Linked DNA regions of Homo sapiens: regions 1, 3 and 4 are each linked to region 2. The links come from fine-mapping of genetic effects on gene expression. A gene starts in region 2. Each other region holds a variant in brackets. All regions are shown on one strand. Distances are between the middles of the regions.

Region 1 (5,155 bases), 500 kb after region 2:
TACCAATAGGCCTGGCACGGTAACTCATGCCTGTAAGCCCAGCACTTTGGAAGGCCAAGGCAGGCAGATTGCTGAAGCCCACGGGTTCCAAGACCAGCCTGGGCGACACGACGAAACTCTGCATCTACAAAAAAATACAGAAATTAGCCGGGTATGGTGGTGCTCGCCTGTGGTCGCAGCTACTCAGGAGGCTGAGGTGGGAGGACAGCTTGAGCCTGGGAAGTGGAGGTTGCAGTGAGCTGAGATCATGCCACTGCACTCCAGCCTGGGTGACAGTAAGACCCTGCCTCAAAAAAAAAAAAAAAAACAAAAAACCAAAACATATATATATATATATATATATATATAGTTTAGTAGAACAAATCTGAAAGTAAAACTTGCCATATTCCATTTGACCTGGTCTTGGAGGAGGGGTAGGATTTGGGCCTAAATTCATTTTCCGCAGTGCTTAGTTTATTGGACTTAGGTGGCTGAGTTAGTCCACTAGGTCTTATAAGACTGTTATATTTTAGATGCCAACTTAACAATTTGTTGTGAGAACAATAATAACCAGGCAGACAAATATGTAAACCTGACAAAGTCTTCTCTCCTTGAAGCCCCGCTTCCTGGGAAGCCAGATGTCCAGCAGTATCTTTGGGACTAGAGTAGGTGATGCTGAATGTTTAACTATGACAGCTTCCCCTACCCGGCAGTACCACATGTATGCTGAGGGACATGGAACTTGCACTTAAGACTTTTCCATTTTGGTAAAAGAAATGAGACATATGAATATTTATGCCTAATAATATACCGATAACATCTACAAGGAAGAAAGTAGCTCTCATCACTTGCTCAGAGACTGGCACAGTTTAAAGTTTGAATAAATATGAGCTGAAAATATTAATAAATGCCATAGGAAAGACAGATTAAGAATGGTGATTGTTATAATTTCCCTTCACTTAGTGTTTGCTCCGTGCCAGCCAGCCAGGCATTGGACTGCAGTTTCATCATCCTTTGGAAGTCACAGCAGGGAGACACAATTCCACTGAAAAGATTAGAGATTCCATTTGACCTGGTCTTGGAGGAGGGGATAGGATTTGGGCCTAAATTCATTTTCCTCAGTGCTTAGTTTATTGGACTTAGGTGGCTGAGGTAGTCCACTAGGTCTTATAAGACTGCTATATTTTAGATGCCAACTTAGCAATTTGTTGTGAGAACAATAATAACCAGGCAGACAAATATATAAGCCTAACAAAGTCTTCTCTCCTTGAAGCCCAGCTTCCTGGGAAGCCAGATGTCCAGCAGTATCTTTGGGACTAGAGTAGGTGATGCTGAATGTTTAACTACGACAGCTTCCCCTGCCCTCCCCCACCATGACCTTATCTTTCCCCAAGACCAGACATCATCCTCACTGCTACCCAAGTCTCCCCTTTCTGGAATTCCTGGGATGACCAACCTAGCCTTTGTTGTTTGATACAATCTTTCTTTAACTATGTCAGTTAAATTTCCGTCAGTATTCCCCGCTGGGGAACCATCCTGGTGTTGTTTGTTTGCTTATTTTTATGAGTTGCATTTGGCTGCTCTGATTAGTTTCAATTGATTTCTTAGGCTAACTTTCTGAGGTTCTGTCTAGGTGGGATCTCTGATCTCTGTTTCATAGGAGCCCTATTATGTGTTCAGAAGCTAAGTAACCCAATAATTCTGTACCTACTCTGGACCAACAGGCACTGTTACGGTTCTATGGTCCCAGGGTTGGATTGGCTGTTTTGGACATGCCAATTAAGGTCACATTTCCTAACTTCATTTCAAAATACAGAAGCTTCCCAACATGGAAAATACTCACTTATTTAACCTTGAACATATCAAAAACATTGTAGCCTCTGGCACCTTATACAAAAATGCCTACCATGTAGTAGTTAATTTATAATTTGTGGGTCAATTTGTTTTTCAATATTTTTAAAAAAGAATAGGCAAACATCAAAATTCTTCAAACTAGCCGTAACCAACTAAGAGACAAGCAGAATTTCATTTCATATTTTAAACCTTGTACCAATTCATTACTTTTTAATTTCTTATAAAATTCCCCTTTCATTGGCTCAATTTTATTTGCTCAGTTTCAGTTTATGAGACAGAAAGAAGTGAAAATTTTAAAATATCCTTGGCCATCTGTTGAAAGTGTAACTTAGGAGTGAAAGACATAATGTCTGTGTTGCATATACCTTGCACTCTGATGAGTGGTCAATTTCTTCCCATTCAGCTTTTACCAACAACAAGTTGGTGGTTTCCATTCTTCTTTCCATCTTATTAGACCTCAGAGCAGAAAACCTTAGAATTATTTCCTAAAGAGTGTTTTTGTTCTTACCTTTTCTAGTCTTTGGCTATAAGAAAGAGATGTTCAATAAATATTTGGAAGGCAGTAGTTAACAAATTTCTCATTTATAATG[C/T]TAACACTCAATGTGGCTAAGGCAGTCTCATACACTGTTGGTAGCATTTAAATTAGTAAAGTTCTTTGGGAAGTAATATGCCAATATATGGCAGGAACATAAAAAATAGAATTACTCCTGGACTAGTTTTGCTCCCAGGACCTCAGCCTATGAAAATAAAACAGCGTCAATAATAATAATAATAATAACAAAAAATGATAATGATGATTATAATGATGACGACAACCACCTCCAAATCATCAAATCCCATGGTCGGTTCTTGTTCCTTATCTTTGCTGTCTCTGATTTTGGTCACTATTGGCTCCTTCTTGGCATAGTCTTTCTTTTAGTTTTCTTGGCCCTGAAAATCTTATTTCTTTTCCTCCCTCTCTCACTGTGTTTTTGGCAGTACCCTTGCTCTTTCCATTCCAATAAAGACAGGCATTCTCCAACCAGGATTCTATCTTCTCCCCTCACCTTTCTACTCTAACCCCAGGCAATCACACAGACGTCCATATATCTTCTGCAAAATAACCCCAAAGTCCTCATTACCATTGAGCTCTTCTCTGAGTATGCATATTTGAGAGCTGTAACTACACAGCAACATTTCCTTAGATTCAAATTAAATGTGTCAATTTACTTGCTCTTTAGAAGTAAGAAGAATATTTATATTCCTTGAAAGTCTAGTATAGTATCTGATAGACAATAAATTCTCAATTGTTTACTGAATGACTTGATGAATGAATGAACAAATGAATATTCTTTACCTGGCTTTTCTGTAGATGGGTGTGACGTGTGAGGGCAAGTTGATTCCAAAAGAAACAGTTTTTACGTTTTTATTAAAAAATGAAATAATAAATCAGGGCATGTCTCCCTAAATCCCTTAATATCCATCAAAGCATTTATGGAAAACTCAGTCTTACTCAGCGTGATGTCACTACATGGCCGCAGGAGAGTTTTCAGACTCACTTCCATACTGAAGAAGGAAAGCATATCTTATCTAATAAAAATGCTGACCACTGGCCGGCCATGATGGCCCATGCCGGTAATCCCAGAGCTTTGGGAGGCCGAGGCAGGAGGATCACTTGAGACCAGGAGTTCAAGACCAGCCTGGGTAACATAGCGAGACCCTGTCTCTATGAATATTATTATTTTTAAAATGCTCAACATATTGCTGATTTGTGGTGAAAAACAAAAGCGGTCCAGCCATCTTCTCTACCAAGTGAATTTAGTAACTTTAATTAGTCCCTGAAGCAACTGCACTGGAACTCAAATTTTCATGTTCTTCCTTTTCTCTCTAAGATGGAGAGAGAGCTCAAGGACAGAATACAGAGATTTCCTGAGTCGCACAGTTTCTCTGAGCTCTTGTTCCACATGTCTTCTCTGTCAAACAAATCACTAGTGATTAATCAGCCAGTGCAAACAGTTTGGGATTATGTAAGCATAGTGCCAAACAGAAAATATCTAGTCAATGCCATCGCTAAATATCTAATTTTTAAAATGCCGTTTCCAAAAGTAATACATGAAATAATAAGGACATTTTAAAATCCATCATATCACTCATCTGTCACATTCATTAAAGTGATGTTAATTAAGAAAGGATGGTATTCAAATAATGAGTTAATGTTTTATTTCCTGGCCTCAATTTTTTCCTTACTTAGGACTGGCAATGATGATAAAGATTTTCTGATGTCAGAAATAAATGTGGAACAGTGAAATACATACTTATATCAGGCTCTTTTTAAAAAGCATTTTTCTTAATTTATGGTGGGAGAATTTTCCATCTGTTGGCTAACACCTGAGCCCTAATATGGAGCTCCAGAGCGAGCCACACTAAGCCACATGGGAAGTCCATCTGAGCTGGATTCAATAAGAAATGTAGGACTTCCCATCATAGAACAAGAGCATGTTTTCCCAAAATCTTACACAAAAGTCCTGCTGTCAAGCAAGCAGTTTCTCTAGAAGAAAGCTCAGCTACCCTTTCCTAAAATAGATGCTTACTGTGTTACTATAACCATATGGGTACATAGAGCACACTTTGCCTGAAGACAATGATATTAAAAATTTTGAACTTATTGTGCTGCATAAAGAGAAAACCCTATAGTGTAAATCTTATTTTAATTTACAAAGAGACTGACTTTTAACCAACCTTGAATTAGCGACTTCAGTCTCCCCAAAGTCGAATTGGCTGGTAGCATCCTGTCAATCTCTCTTTATATAATGATACTTTAAAATTTTTTTGTATAAGCAAAATTTTAATAGTCTTATTAAATTTCCCCCATAATCTTGTATTATTTATTACACTTTTCACCTTTACTAATACTTCCTTTATGACTTCCCTTTAGCCTCTGATTTATCAGAGCATCTTAGAAGATGATGATGCTTTCACCCAAATGGGTCAAGTCCTTTGAGGCCTACATAGTTCCAAAGAATCCTGCAGAATCTGACTGTGGATAAAGGTGAAGGTCCTAAGGATTTCCTTTGAGTATTATGTCCATGTGGCCCCAGAACACATTTTTCTTTCCTGAAGTCACTAAAAAAAAAGTAGTAACTACATGCAGACAGGACAAGTTGCCCACAACGAATTATTGTAGCCCAAAAACAAGTATCTAAATTTAACCAAAGCTTTCTGTCAATAAGAAACTGAATAGTAACTATATGGAGGCCCAGTATCCAAGCTGAAGAGAGAACATTGAAGAAATCTGTCCCTTTGTCCCTGAATTCTAATCTGAAATTCACATGAAGCTGAAAGC
Region 2 (5,155 bases):
GAGACCCTGTCTCAAGAAATACAAAAACAAAAAATAAAGTAAAATAAATATGTCTTGATACACACACATAAGCACAGCAAGACATGAAAAAATACAGTAGAATGTTAACAATGGCTAACTCTATTGATAGGATTATCAGTGATTTTTTGGCCATTACTATGATTTTCTGAATTTTCAAAAATGTCAAGAAGAAGTATAATGGACTTTTTCTATTAAAAAAATTAATGGAATATTGTTCAACCTTGAAGAGGAAGGAAATTCTGACACATGCTATATAACATGTATGAAGGTTGAAGACATTATGCTACAAAACACAAATACCATATGATTCCATTTATTAGGTACCTAGAGTAGTCAGATTTATAGGAGCAAAGTAGAATGGTGGTTGTCAGGGGGTTGGGAGATGGAGTGGTTGTTTAATGAGTACAGAGTTTCAGCTTTGCAAGATGAAAAGAGTTCTGGAGATTGGCTGCACAACAATGTGAAAGTATTTCACTACTAAACTGTACATTTCAAAATGGTCAAGATGGTACATTTTATGTATATTTTATTACATTAAAAATTTTTTGTTTCATTTACATTATAAAAGGAGAGCTTTAATGATGCCCTTAAAAATAAATACGTGGTACATGATGTAATTTTGTTCTTTACATGAGGTTGTATTTTCTCACCTCCTTTTACACTCCCCTTGTGGCAGCTGGGGCCATCCTCCACAGGAGCTTCAGACTTGTCCCCTTGTCATAATTTTCTCTAACAATTCTCCTGGTTTTCCTTTTGTCTTTTTTTTTTTTTTACTTTTTGCTGATCTTTCTTCTCTGCCTATGAACATGGTCAAGTCTTCTGGGCTTTGTTGAACCTTTTGAGAGTAGGTTAAATAGTTGCTTCTTTCTGTAATGCTTCTTTCTTAAGCTTCTACAACATAATTTGTATGTTGGACATACATTCTCCTTACAGACAGACTCACACACCTCAAAACACTCCTCTTGAATTACCAATCTCAGGTGTTTTTCCAGACACCCATACCACAAGTCTATGTGCAATATGGCACAACTCCCTTTTTCCGTCCCAACCCCACTAATTTTACCTTCTATGTATTCCTCTAGTCCTAGCCCATCCCCAGCCTGTCTCGTCTGGACATCCTGGTAGTTCAGTTGGAACCCATCCTCCATACTGCAAGCAGTGTTTTAGTCCATTTTGTGTTGCTGTAAGGGAATTCCTGAGACTAGAAGAACAGGACGGAAATGTATTTCTCACAGTTCTAGACGCTAGGAAGTCCAAGATCAAAGTGCTGGCAGGTTACGGCCTGGTTTCTCTGCTTCCAAGATGGCTCTTTGAATGCTGTGTCCTTCAAAGGTGAGGAATGCTATGTTCTTATATGGCAAAAGAGCAGAAGAGCAAGAGAGAGTGAACCCACTCCCCAAACCTCTTTTTATGGCAGCATTAATCCATTTATGAGGGCAGAGCCCTTGTGATGAAAATACCTCCCCAAGGACCCAACCTTCCAACACTGATGCATTAGAGATTGTATCCAACACATCAATTTTGGGGGGCACATTCAGACCATAGAGAGATCTTTCTATATCGAAAACCTAGTCATGCTGCTTCCTGACTTAAAACCCTTCAGTTAAGGTGCATACCCTTCAGCAAGGCGCCTAAGACCCACCATGACACAGCCCCTACCTGCTGGGCCAGACTCCTTCCACTAGTCGTGCCACTGCCCCAATCCCATAGCTCAAGATCAAGTTACCTTTTGATATGGTTTGACCGTGTCACTACCCAAATCTCATCTTAAATTGTAGTTCCCATAATCCCCACATGTCATGGGAAGGACCCGGTGAGAGACAACGGAATCATGGGGGCGGTTACTCCCATGCTGTTCTTGTGATAGTGAGTTCTTATGAGATCTGATGGTTTTACAAGGGGCTTTCCCCCCTTTGCTTGGCACTCATTCTCTCTCCTGCAACCCTGTAAAGAGGTGCCTTCCACCACAACTGTAAGTTTCCTGAGGTCTCCCAAACCATGCGAAACTGAGTCAATTAAATCTTTTGGTTTATAAATTACCCAGTCTCAGGTATTTCTTCATAGTGGCATGAGAATTCTCAGTATTCTTATTGAGCCCTGGGAACAGTCTGCTGCCTTAACAGGTTATACTGAAGTAAACATTTATGTGTCTCTTTCCCAATAGCCCTGAAGCTGTTTAACGGTTGGAACCAGTTCTTAAGTCATTTCGGGGTTTCCAGCACCAAGCACAGTGCCTAGCACATAGTAGGAAGGCACTCAATCAACGTTAATGAATTAAACTGATTAGTAATAAGTGCTTTTTGCTGCCATATTACATCCACAACCTACAATACATTAAAAGTCCTTTTCCCTGATCACCACTGTCTTATAAATTTTGATTACAAGGACAGAAGAATGAAATCCTGATGAAGAGGAGTAAGGCCTGGAGGTCATATAAGCAAATTTTCATTAAAATGCTTGTTTATTTATTTTAGTAGGGCCTATTTGGGGGAAGTCTTTTGACCCGGGCCTTTTGACTTCTACCGTTTTAACAGGTAGGGCTGAAATGGAGTAGTTTCATGAATATACGTTCTGCACTACATTCACTTGTTGGGTTCTTAAGAGTTCACCGATTTTGATCTAAAAGTAGGCGTGCCAGCAATATTTGCAATCTCGCCTTCTAAGTCAATGCTTTTGGATCAAAGTCTTTTTGGATCCAGTGTAAAGTGGAGCTCCTTCAAAGGGAACGCACAGGGGAAAAAATATCCAGCAAAGTATGTGTCCTAGTGGAGTTCTCAACTTCCCCAGGCCGTGCACCATCTGTCGTTACTTGCCCCTCCCATCGGTCCGAGGGCCCAGTAGCCCCTGGTATCAGCAGAAGCCAGCAGCTTCCCTGGTGGGGCCACCTGCCCTCAGGTGACGGGCTTGCACACGGCCAAGTTACCTCTGCCCACGCCGCAGAGGCCGCCGCTGCTGGACAGCGCAGCGGGGTCACGTGTCCCTGTCCAGCCACTGCCCCAGGATCTGAGCCCTCCCCGGCTGCAGGGCAGAGGCCGCTGGATCACGCGCACCCCGGCGGCCAAGGCTGGGCCCAGCCAATGGGCGGGCAGCATCCACATGACCCGCGCCGGCGGGAGGGCGTGGGGAGGCAGGCCAGGAACGCACGCTGCCTGGCCGTATCGCCGCCCCCACCGCCGCCGCCGCCGGGACTAGAAGTGAGCCGCCCGGGTCCCAAACGCCAGCCAGCCAGTCAGTGGGTCCCGCAGTCGCCCGCAACCGGGGCGAATCATGGCGGCCGCCAAGGTAACCGCGGGCCCGAGGCCGGGGGGAGCGCGCCTGCCGGATCAGCCTGGGGGTGCGAGAGGCTCGGGCGCTCACGTGTCTGGGTTGGTGCCACAGGCGGAGCAAAATGGGGTGCCGGGCAGCCGTTCCACCTTGCGGCTGCTGGAGGGAGGGGGCCACTCCTCCCGGGCAGCACAGGCGGTCGGTGCAGAGACCGAGGCCCGACCTCGCAGCGGAAACTTTGTGGGCCGGACACTCCCACTTGGCCGGGGAGGGAAGTTGGTGCCTGACGGGGCTGAGCCAGGGCCGACGAGGAGGAGCGGGCGCGACTGGGGCCTGGTGCACCCTGGGCCGGCAAGCGCTGGGGGTCCTCTCTACCTTCCCAGCGCGCTCCTGCTCCTGACCCCGCTGGTTGTTGACTCCGGCTTCTTCCAGGGGCCAGAGCCCGGGCTGAAGCCTGATCCTATTACGTTTCAAGGGCTCCGCCCTCCCGCGGGTGGGGAAGTTACTTTGACTTCCGTTTTGGAAACTGCCTAGGAGACTTGGTCTGCGCCTTTGTGAATAAAAAGTCCAGGGACTCTCCCCCTCCCCGCTTTCCCATCATTCCCATCTTCCCCCTCCCTCTCTCCATCTGACAACACTTAGATACCCGCCTCGGAGCATTTGAGAGGCTTCTTTTTGGGAACGATGAAACAGATTGTCCTGGGAGCCTGTCACTCCTGTGAAGTTGTACTTGAAAGGGGTTCTGTGTAATGTGAATCATTCACTAACCCAGAGGAAAGGCAACTCCAACACTTGACCTTTCCTCTTTCACCATTTCTTGAAACCTGGACACCATTTCAGTCTCTTTGGACTGCATTTCAACTTCTCTGGCAGAATACCATATTTAGTCCCAATCACTTGAATCATTTGGAATTTATTGCTTTTAATTTAAGTTCACGAAGGCAGCCCTCTAATCAAGCCTATACAACTTCTTAGCTCATTTTAAGTGCAGTGAACTTAAATATACCTAACATTTCAAACATTTGTCCTTAATCAAAACTCTGTGATAACCCTCAAGAGGAAAACATGGCCAACACATCATATTCCTATTTATTCAAGCAAACTAATCACATTTGCAATGGAAATTGTAAGCAGACAAATATATTTAAATGCTGTTCTATGACTTAAGTCTCTCCAGGCTCCCCAAATCCGTAGGCTTCTTCATGTTGTTAGTTTCTGTGGTCTAAGTGGCATTTCTCTTTTCTGTAATTACTCTGAGTTTCATCCTTAGGAAAGTACTCTGGGTGTGTGGGCTCATGTATGTTTGCATATGAACACACAGGTGTGCGTGTGTATATCTATCTATAACTTTTCAGCAGTTTCTCTGAGCATCACTAGGATTCAATTTTGGAAGCTGCCTTAACCCTTTCAAGCCCAATAGCCCTTGACCTTTTTTTTGCATTAAATTTGCATGCAACCAAGGTACAAGGCTTGGTATGAACTAATTCCCTAGAGTAGGTGGGACTAGGTACCCATTCTTTACTGTTAGTTTTATATCTGCAGGTAATGTAAATACTTTTACTTTATTAGGAGATAAGGTAATTGAGGAACATAAATTGAGACGTGTGCATAGAAATGGAGTATAAGACTTGAGTAATATTAAGTAAAATAAGTGACCTGGTGCTGTGGCTCATGCCTGTAATCCCAGCACTTTGGGAGGCTGGGGCGGGCGGGTCAGTTGAGGCCAGGAGTTCGAGACCAGCCTGGCCAACGTGGCAAAACCCTGTCTCTACTAAAAATACAAAAAAGTTAGCTAGGCGTGCTGGTGGGCACCTGTAATCCCAGCTACTCAGGATGCTGAGGCAGAAGAATCGCTTAAACTCAGGAGGCG
Region 3 (5,155 bases), 170 kb after region 2:
CTCTTTTAAAGGCCCTGTTTCCAACTATAGTCACATTCTGAAATATTTGAGAGTTAGGACTTCAACTATGACTTTTGGTAGAACACAGTTCAGCCCATAACAGTTGCTTTAATCTTTCTGTGCTTCAATTTCCTCTTATGTAAAATCTGCAAAAAGTACCTCTTGAGTGGACTGAAAATATGTAATATATGCAAAGCAACACCTTAATACCCCATAATAGATGTTTAATGAATATTCATGACTTCTACCCTTACTACTTCAAGCTTCTTGAGAATGAGAATAAAGCATCTTGTGTCCTTGCAGTTCTAGGACAAACTTTGAATTGCTTATAAATATTTGGTGAATGAAAAATCAAATAGCAGAAGTGAGTCTATAATAATTGTATGCATTTCTCTTTCTCTCTTAGATGGATCCAGATACTAGATGATAACTAAGATTTCAATAACAAAGAGTATACCAGGAAACATGTAGAAAAGTCAGTGTTACCGCTGTAAATATAATATGCCACACTGAGCCAGTTCAGTATGGAATATTTTCCCATGTCCTACTTGCCACAGACTCCAGTAAGTCATAGGGAAATGATTTGTGACAAAATTGCACACACACAAAAAAAACAGTATCTTCACACAGCCAGAGCTTTCAAGTGATGAGGGACGCAAAGACATTGTGCACAATAGGTGTTCCTGTCCATTGTCTGCCGATTCAGCTATCTTTGATCTCTGCAAAAGAGGAACCATGGGTATGGTACTGTGAATGCATAATAGACCAGGAATTGGAAGAGCGGCACGCAGTGTGCTGCTCAGTGATCAAGTCGTGGAGAGACCCAGACACCATGCATCTGATGATAAGCATCTTCTCTTGGTGCCTTGGAGTCTCTCATTTCCTTCCAGTTCGACTCCAAAGGGCCTGTTTCATCTTCAGCACCTTTACAATGTGCCACTTTGAGTCTGTAGGTTCTTTCTTTCAGAGGCCACCACAGATAATGGGTACATCATTATGTTTTCTTGATATCACTACATTCTTTCTTCCCCGTGCATCTGCCTCCTGCAGCTCTCTGAAGTGGATTTGACTCCTCATCATCCCTAGTGATAACTAACTCTGCTTTAAAAGAATTGTTATCTGTTGGTTGGCTTGGAGTCAGGGAGTTGAGTGTAAGTTCTTGTTTTATTGTATATAATGCTAGCAACTTTTACCAGTGTTAGTAAAGATAAGAGATAATAAGACAATTCCGTACCTAAGAATTGTACCCTTTCATAACAGCACCACTTGGATATGTAGAAAGAGTTTGTTGTGAGATCAGATGTAAAACAAATAAAAGTTATTCGTGAAATGATATGGAAGACTGGGATTAGAAACTGTGGCATTCAAGAAGCCAGTTAAGCTGATTCTCAGAATTGACAGAGATTCTAGAGATGGTGTAGTGCAGATGGTGTAGTGCAGGGATTCTCAGCCTCACTGCACATGGTAATCTCATAGGAAAATTTTAGCAAGGACAGATGCAGAAATTCTTATTAAACTGTCAGGACTGAAGTCCAGAGGTCACTATATTTTAAAAAGGTCTGCAAGTGATTGTAACATGCATCTATGGAGGAAAACATCAGCGTAGGAGAAAAAGGGAAAGAAACCAACTGGAGTAAAGGCTCTGTCTTGAGCACTGTGCTGGCTCCTGTACATTCTCCATCTCTTTTTATCTTCATAGTAAGTGAGATGGTTTGACAAATAGGGAGACCGAAGCTCTGCCTTCATGTGGGACACTCAACTGCCTCCTTCCCTGCTGTTGGCAGTGCTTGGATGAATATGCATTGTATGCCTCTTCTCTCTTCCAAGAAGACTGGTTTCTCTGATTACTTTGCATTTTACCCTGGATAGAGATGGTCTTACCCTCTTTTGAGCTTCAAAAAATCAGGCTTCAGGCTAATTCCAACCTGGTGAATCTTTCTCAGCAATTCTACCCCCATAAAACAATCTTTACATTTTAAATTTCTATTCATTTTTCTAACTATTCATAAGATTTTCGTATGAAGAGTTCTGGTTCAGAAACACAGAGAAAATCCTTACCGTGCCTCTCACATGGTTACTTGGTTAGGTGTGTTTCAACTCATCATTCTGCCAACCGTAAATAGCTGAGTCCATATCACATGGGAAATGTAGGTGCAAATTCACAAAACACTCACGGGCTGTAAACAACCAGGGAGTTGTTCTTCTCATGGACCTGCAGGTTGCAGCAGCAGCATCTGAGCAAAACAGAGCTGTTCTGAGCAGTAGGGCGGGGAGCAGCACGTCTTTGTGTGGACCAGAATGCACCAGCCTGTGGGTGTATCATCTCACACTCTACTTCCTAGACTAAGGCCCTTTCTTGGGCCTTTCAGTGAATCCAACCCAGGTT[G/T]GTATTTTGTGTTGTCCCCCAACCCAAACAAAAAATTCATTTGCACTTAAGGAAGAACAAGAGTGACTTGATTAAGGTATCAAGTTGGTAAAAATGGAAAAACAATTTGATTTAGAGAGTTAATGAACGAACATCTTTCTTTGATTCTTTTCATTAACATTACACATATTAGGTAAACTGTGTATAGGTGTTTATTTTTCTTTATGGAAGTCACACATGATCTATATAGAAAAAATTTCAAATACATCAAAAAAAAAAAAGGAAAAGAAAGATACTTGTAATCCCACCACTTCAGAAGCACCACTTTGGTGTATTTCTTCCACATGGTGGTAGGGGATGGCAGGGGGAAATGTGTACCAGTATTTTAAACATATGAGCATTTTTACTTAAAAGTATATATTGAACATTTTTCACTGTTGACTGCATAGTATCTCCATGCATGAACATACTCAAGTTCATTTAACCCATCCCTTACCATTAGATATTTATGTTGTTTCTAATTTTTCTTTCCAGCTTTTATAAATAATACTTCAAAGGCCATCCTTGTAGCTAGTTCTAATTAGTACAGTATAGTTTGGATGATATAAAAATTTCATATATGTGTGACAAGGAATAACAAGTTGAAGTACAGTAAGAAAGAATGTAATTGCTTGTGATAAATATAGGCTTAGCTTCAAAATAGCTAGCTTAAAATTTCCCTTATAGTGTACTTTAAAGATTTCACTGATGATCTTGGAGGTGAGGCATCTAGCCATTGCTGGAATGAAATAACACACGATGTTCAAAGTTTGGTTGGTAATTGACTTAGTGCATATTTTTGCTACTTTCATATACCACTTATCTCATATGAAAAGAGCAATTCTGTACACAAGTAATACATAAACAAAAATTTTAAGAATATGTAACTCCATAAAATGAGATTTGATGATTGACTTGAGTTTCTAAGAGAAAAAAATAATAACTTTCATCTAAGTTTACGTGTTCGCTGGCAGTTTTTGAATCGTTGCCAGAATCATGAAATTCATCATTCAAGAGCCTTTGTCCTCCTAGTCCCCGTTCTGTTCTGTGTCTCCTCATTTGGATACGTTCTGTGTCTCCTCATTTGGATACGTTCTGTGTCTCCTCATTTGGATACGAATGCTTTTCATTTTATTACTGCCTTTGTGCCCTTGGCTTTGAGTCCTGTGGTGGCAGTTGTTTGTGCTTCAAGGAGCATTTGTAATTTCAGTGTGAGGACTTGGGGAGGTCAACAGAAATCTCTGGTCTTTGCCCTCCTTCAGCCTCCACATTAAGGACATAGGGCTTCTTCCTAGGCAGTAACTGTATTTTGATTCATACTTGTAATCCCTAACCGTTTTGATTGATGGGACAAGGGCTGAAACTACATTCTCTTGAGGATAGAATATTTTTATCCTTGAGAATAATCATTCATCTCTTCCTGACCCACCTTACCATTTCTTTGCTTTGATCCTAAATCTTTTTTGTTCTTTTTAGGCTGGAGGCTCCCAGGTGATTTTCACAAATCCTTTAGAAATCGTCAAGATCCGTTTGCAAGTGGCAGGAGAAATCACCACTGGTCCTCGAGTCAGTGCTCTGTCTGTCGTGCGGGACCTGGGGTTTTTTGGGATCTACAAGGTAACTTTTTTTTTTTTTTAGTCATTTATTTGATTACTTTCTCATCTCCTAATGCAGAAACTATTCTTCAACATGAAATCCATTTTTTTTTGCATTTCTACACCTGGAGAAGATGTTCTACCCAAGCTGCAGAGGCACCTTCATGCCAATTAGAAGGAGGTGCCCCTTCCTGCCATCTGCCAAAAAACTATCCTCATCAATACACAAATCTAGGATGACTATGATAGGAATCGTGCCCTCTAGAGTTGTTCAGTGCAGCTCTTTGCAGCAACACTGGCTAGAATTTTATTTGGATTTGTTATTGATACGCTGAGTTCAGTTCAAGGAGAAACCTGTATCATAATTTATTTTCTGATCCTATGCATATGGTCCGATCCATGTTTTCTCTATATATGTATGCCTTGTCTTAATTATTATAAATCTTAATCATTTTTCATTTAGAAAATGTTTTTTCAGAATGATTACAAAACCAAACTTCTAGATGATTCTTGAAATTTTTTATTCATACTGCTCTACCAAAAAGTTATAATGGAATTTACTAGAACTGTCTGCCTATATGCCAACCTATAAGGCTTTATCAAACATAATGTATACACAAGTTTTCAATGAAGAATTTTTTAAAAAAACATTTTACGCTAGCTTGACTAAGTAAACCTTTAGGGATATGGGAGAAAAATAAAATGTCTACTTAAGATAGTTTCATTTATTTACACAGAAATGTATACAGTCACATTATATAAAATTAATACTGCTTTGTTTCTATAAACACATATCAAGAAATATTAAAATTATTCATGAATTTTGAATCAGCATCTTGAGCTCCATTTAACCCACTTTTTAGGTCATCTGTTAGCATGGTTTTGCAGAATACATTGTCTTCATTTTTATCCCAAGCTTTGTAATTTGAAGCATTTTTGACTTTTATGTATGATATTGTTCCTGCAAATTTTATCCCATAGACACATAATATTAAGACAGTCAATTGCTTTTTTCCTATTCCCAGTTAATCCTGAATGGATATAACTGGTCCCCATAATGTAACAACTTACCATATTGCTAGAGTAAACTTGAAATGACTTGTTTTGACATTTGACACAGTATTTGTGAGATCCTCCTCCCAGAAATACTTTTTTA
Region 4 (5,155 bases), 43 kb after region 2:
CCAATCCAGATGCAAATCCTTAAATTATATTTTGTTCCATCCCTATAACAGGGAATCAAAGTAAAGGATGGGCAGATGCAGTGACCTGTTGTGTGCACCTTCTCAGTGGTTGGAAAACAATGTAGGGGATTTGTCCTTCAGTCCCAGGATATGAGTGATTCATGACAAAATGGGTAGCTGGATGATTATGGTTCTACCCTGGCTCATTCACAGCTTACAAACCTTTATCAATTTACTGTGACTGATGGTGAGCAGGCCAGATAGGACCCCTGCCCTCGGGGTATGGGCATTTGTAGTGATAGGTTCCTTCTGGTTTCCTTTGCTGTCATCTTCACTGAGTATGGTGGTATTTCTTGGTGATGACAATAAGTATTATACAAGGTTGCATGAGGAATCCTAAAACTCTTCCCATTTTGCAGGTGTATGTTTAATCATAATAAAACTCCTGAAAATTGCAAGGGAGGAAGGCTTCAGCTCACTAGTGAAAAATATTCCCAAAGAAGGATTAATGACATTTTAAAGATGTGGTGGATATAAGGATATAGTCCGTTCCCCCTATAGGGACCCTCTGCTCACTGCTGCAGGGAGAGCAGAGCTGCATTTATCACTACCCTCATACATATTTTTATTATGGTCTGCCTCTGTCCATCAATCCTAAGGAGCAACCTTTGACATGTTTACTTAAATCACAGAGCAGACTGCCCAGCCGTGGTGATGAGCTTGTTTTAAAAACTGGAGAAAACTATTTCTGTGCCCAGATTAACATGCTCTTATATTTAAGAAATGATTTCTTTATTGCATCTAAAAAAATGAAGCTGATAATATCTCTCAAAGACTTCTAAAATGTAAACTGTTGAAATATAAATTGAATGCATACATCACAAATGTACAGCCATGAATACTCAGAAAGTGAGTAGGCCCATGTAACGAGCATCCCAGAGGCCCTCTGATGCCCCTTCTGATCAGCACCCACCAAGGGTAACCAGTTGTCTGAATTCTGGTCACTGTATGTTAAAACTAACTGTATGTAAGTTTTGCCTGTTTATTTCACTTTGCGTGAATGGAATTATACGCTAGGTTTTCTTATGTTTCTTTTCTTTTACCCTTAGGATTCGTCTGTTGTCATATGTAGTTGGAGTTAGTTTATTCTTTTTTTTTTTTTTTTTTGAGATGGAGTTTTGCACTTGTTGCCCAGGCTGGAGTGCAATGGGGCGGTCTCAGCTCACTGCAACTTCTGCCTCCCGGGTTCAAGCGATTCTCCTGCCTCAGCCTCTTGAGTAGCTGGGATTACAGGCCTGTGCCACCATGCCTGGGTAATTTTTGTATTTTTAGTACAGACGGGGTTTCACCATGTTGGCCAGGCTGGTCTCAAGCGCCTGACCTTAGGTGATCCACCTGCCTTGGCTTCCCAAAGTGCTGGGATTACAGATGTGAGATGCCGTGCCCAGCTGGAGTTAGTTTTTTCTCATTGCTGTGTTGTATTCCATTGTGTGAATTCACCACAAGCCATTAATGTATCCTACTATTGGTTGACATTTGTGTTATTTTTAGTTTTTTGGATACTACAAATAATGCCGCTGTGGGCATTTTCACATAGTTTTTGTGTATATGCACACTTCTGTTGGTGATATACTTCTGATTGAAATTGGTGGGCTTGTGGTTGTATGTTCAGCTATAGCAGATACTGCCCAGCATTTTTCTAAAATGGTTTACTCCTTTATTCTCATACCATCAGTGTGTGAGAGTAACATTTGCTCCACATTTTTGCCATCACTTATTATTCTTTTTCGTTATCTTGGGGGTATGGCATGGTATTGCATTGTAGGCTTTTTGTTTTATGTTTTGAGACAGGGTCTCACTTTGTTGCCCAGGCTGGAGTATAGTGATGCAAACATGGCTCACTGCAGCCTCAATCTTTTGTGCTCAAGCGATTCTCCTGCCTCAGTCTCCCAAGTAGCTGGGACTACAGGTGCACGTTACCCTACCTGGTTAATTTTTTATTTTTTGTAGAGATGGAGTTCCGCCATCTTGCCCAGGCTGGTCTTGAACTCCTGGGCTCAAGCGATCTGCCCACCTTGGCTTCCCAAAGTGCTGGGATGACAGGCATGAGTCAGTGTGCCCTGCCTTGCATTGTTTTATTTTGCATTTCAGTGGAATTTTTTTAGGGAGCAGCAACTTGATAATGATTCTAAAGGTCATTTGTGGAAAATCAAGGAGTGATCATGGCCAAAAAAATTTCCAAGTGTAAAATAATTCAATGTCTTTTTTAAACCTTTCATTCTTTTAAAAAAATATTTATTTGAACATGTTTCACTATCTACCAGGTACTAGTCTGGGAATTTGAGGACACAGCAGTAAAAATGAGAGAAAAAAAATTCTGTCCTAACAGAACTTTCCCTCTAGTTATAGCATGTAATCTTGCAAGAGTAGACGAGACAATTGAAAAGGATGGTCCTGAAACATCTCTGACTGCAGTGATGACAAGAGCTGTCATTCGATCCCAGCATTCTCCCATGGAGCGTAGGTCAGCCTCAGAATACATGTTGGCCCTAGGAAGCCTTTGCCAGTTCATCAGAACTGGTACTGCAGATGGAGCCATTTTGTCACGCCTTTCCCTGGTGACCATATGATAATTAAGTATGTGATAAACATGGCATCCTAAAGACCTGGAAGAGAGAATGATTTGCTTTGTGTTCGTGGGACAACCAAGAGATT[A/C]AGTGGAAAAATTAAAGTTGGGGGATTCTTACCTTAGATCACACACAAAGATAAAGTACTAATGTACTAAAACTTAAAGGTAAAAGATAAACCTACTTTAAAAAAACTCAGATAAACTCTCTGATATTTAGTCTTGAAATGAAGAAAGACTGGTGATATGGCTTGGCTGTGTCCCCACCCAAATTTCACCTTAAATTGTAATAATCCCCACATTTAAAGGGTGGAGCCAGGTGGAGATCATTGAGTCATGGGGGTGGTTTCCCTCATACTGTTCTCGTAGTAGTGAATAAGTCTCATGAGATCTGATGGTTTTATAAATGGGAGTTCCCCTGCACAAGCTCTCTTGCCTACCGCCATGTTAAGATGTGACTTTGCTCCTCATTCGCCTTCCACCATGATTGTGAGGCCTCCCAGCCATGTGGAACTGTGAGTCCATTAAACCTCTTTTTATTTATAAATTACCCAGTCGCAGGTATGTCTTTATTAGCAGTGTAAGAACAGACTAATACAGCTAGTGTCTAAGCTTAGAAAAGTAATGGAAGAAATTTCAAAGGAGAAAAAAATTCTATACACTCAATTATATAAAAATATCAAACTGGAAAAATATTTGCAACAAATATAATAGACCAAAGTGAGTAAAGGGCATGTTCACACACTGTTGGTGGGAGTGTAAATTGGTACAATCTTTTCCGGAGAGCAGTGTGATAATAAGTACCAAGAGCCCAGAAGTTCCTCTCCTTTGACTCAACAATTTCTCTTCTGGGAGCCTAGCCTTTGAAAATTGCCAGGAATTTGGACAAATGTTATATTCAAAGCTTACTACCTTAGCTTTATTTAAAAATACAAAAAACTGGAAATGTCTACTGGTAGGAGAAAAGTTAAATTGTATAGTAAAATAAATTATTCACTATCAGGGGCAAACTTAGGTATAATTACTAAGTCATAAGATTGCTGTAATTAGCAGTGATATTTCCTTTATATTTTCATCTTGTTTTGGCTCAGTTAGGAAAATCAAAATATAATTCTTTACATGTCCAAAAAGCCGAATTAAATGCTAACTGAAGAATAGTAGGATCACTGGGGCATCTTTGAGCCTTTCCCTTGTAGTGTGCTAAAAAAAATGTTAACTGTAAGACAATACTATAGAACATTTATTTAATATAAAGTACTTATTGTGTATAGGGCGTTGTGCTAAGTATATGACATGAGTATCTCATTTAAATATTTCTAGCATCAGTCTTATGAAGCTGTAATGTTATTCTATTCATTTTGCAAATGAGGAACCAGAGGTACCAAAAGCTTTAGTTACTTACCTGAGGCCATTCAAGTGGTAAGAGGCACAGTCCAGACCCGTGGGATGCCAAAGCATATTACTACTGAGTATCTGAGCAAAGCCTTAGTCTGCATTGGAATTAAAATGTAGAAATAACAAGTGACTTTTAAAAACAGTTTTAATCAGGTTTAACTCAGATTAGAGAGAGAGGGGAGACACTGCCCTGGCACTTCACTGCGCACCCTCCATCACTATGGCTACCAGTGTGGTTCTTATCACCCAGCTAGGCTTGTTCTTGTAGATGCACTATCCTTGCCTCCTCAGTCCCCAAACCACTGCTTTGTCCCCAGGATCAAGAGGCCGTCTCCTGCTTCATAAGGACACCACATGATCCCATGTCGTTTCTCAGCATTTCTGCCCTTAGGGCTCCATGCAACAGAAATTAATGGGCTCTCTCTTATCCAGGCTGGAGTGTATCACATTAAAGGCCAGACCTAGGAGAACACTGTGAGGAAGCGTTGTTTGCCACCTAATTCTTACTGAGCATTTCTGCATGGTAATGCCTTAGAATGGAGAGGACAGTAACTAGAGCAGCATTTACTGCCTCCCTCCATAAGATTGCCCAAGATGACACGCACTTAGTAGTTTGCTGTCCAGCTTAGCTTGTTTGCCATCCTTTCTTGTATCATTGATGCTCTTAAAGCAGGAATGGGGCAAAGGAATTAGGTTGTTTGCCTCCATGACTTCGTAATTCCACTTTTTTTTTTTTTTTAAAAAGCTATGTGCCTTTGCTAAAAAACAAGACATAGTTTGTCTTTCCAAATTTCTATAAACCAGGGTTTCTGAACCTGGACACTGCCCACACTTTGGGCTGGAGAACTGTCTGTTGCAGGGAGTCATCCTGTGTATTGTTGGATGTCTAGCAACATCCCTGGCCTCTACCTGCTGGAGCCAGTAGCACCCTTCCTCACATGTTATGACAATCTTAATTGCCATCAGATATTGCCAAGTGTCCCTGTGGGAAAACATTGCTCCCAGTTAAGTTTATAAACATAAAACTTGACTTGTTTTTTCTTTGAACTGTTGGGAGATAATGGTCATTATGAAGCGTACATGATCATATCTGATATTTTATCGTTTGGATATTTTCAACTTTTTCACATATCA

Which allele goes with the higher level. Alleles are on the strand shown, and positions count from the first base shown. SD is a standard deviation of normalised expression in the study named. Not every link is listed here.
In carriers of allele T in region 3, the expression in fibroblasts of the gene that starts at base 3,147 in region 2 tends to be lower than with G alone (small effect, 0.11 SD a copy in GTEx).

What was found. PIP is the estimated chance that this variant, and not a neighbour inherited with it, causes the effect. A credible set is the group of variants that fine-mapping cannot tell apart.
Region 1: its variant is the best candidate, but not a certain one, in a credible set for the expression of SLC25A13 in monocytes (Fairfax 2014, PIP 0.89).
Region 3: its variant is the best candidate, but not a certain one, in a credible set for the expression of SLC25A13 in fibroblasts (GTEx, PIP 0.85).
Region 4: its variant is the best candidate, but not a certain one, in a credible set for the expression of SLC25A13 in whole blood (TOPMed, PIP 0.79).

The regions. Positions count from the first base shown.
Region 1 is chr7:95,819,146-95,824,300 of GRCh38, reverse strand. All of the region lies in intron 4 of DYNC1I1 (dynein cytoplasmic 1 intermediate chain 1), which reads right to left. Among named protein-coding and RNA genes, the nearest start is that of DYNC1I1, 49 kb to the right of the region's middle. The variant C/T (reference allele first, on the strand shown) is at 2,424.
Region 2 is chr7:96,320,090-96,325,244 of GRCh38, reverse strand. It overlaps SLC25A13 (solute carrier family 25 member 13), which reads left to right and starts at 3,147. Exons shown (of 18, transcript NM_014251.3): 1 at 3,147-3,303. The coding sequence starts at 3,289. RefSeq lists a silencer at 3,012-3,351.
Region 3 is chr7:96,145,422-96,150,576 of GRCh38, reverse strand. SLC25A13 (solute carrier family 25 member 13) reads left to right here. Exons shown (of 18, transcript NM_014251.3): 14 at 3,881-4,021. Among named protein-coding and RNA genes, the nearest start is that of MIR591, 72 kb to the left of the region's middle. The variant G/T (reference allele first, on the strand shown) is at 2,387.
Region 4 is chr7:96,277,404-96,282,558 of GRCh38, reverse strand. The region is part of intron 2 of SLC25A13 (solute carrier family 25 member 13); the gene reads left to right. Among named protein-coding and RNA genes, the nearest start is that of SLC25A13, 42 kb to the left of the region's middle. The variant A/C (reference allele first, on the strand shown) is at 2,716.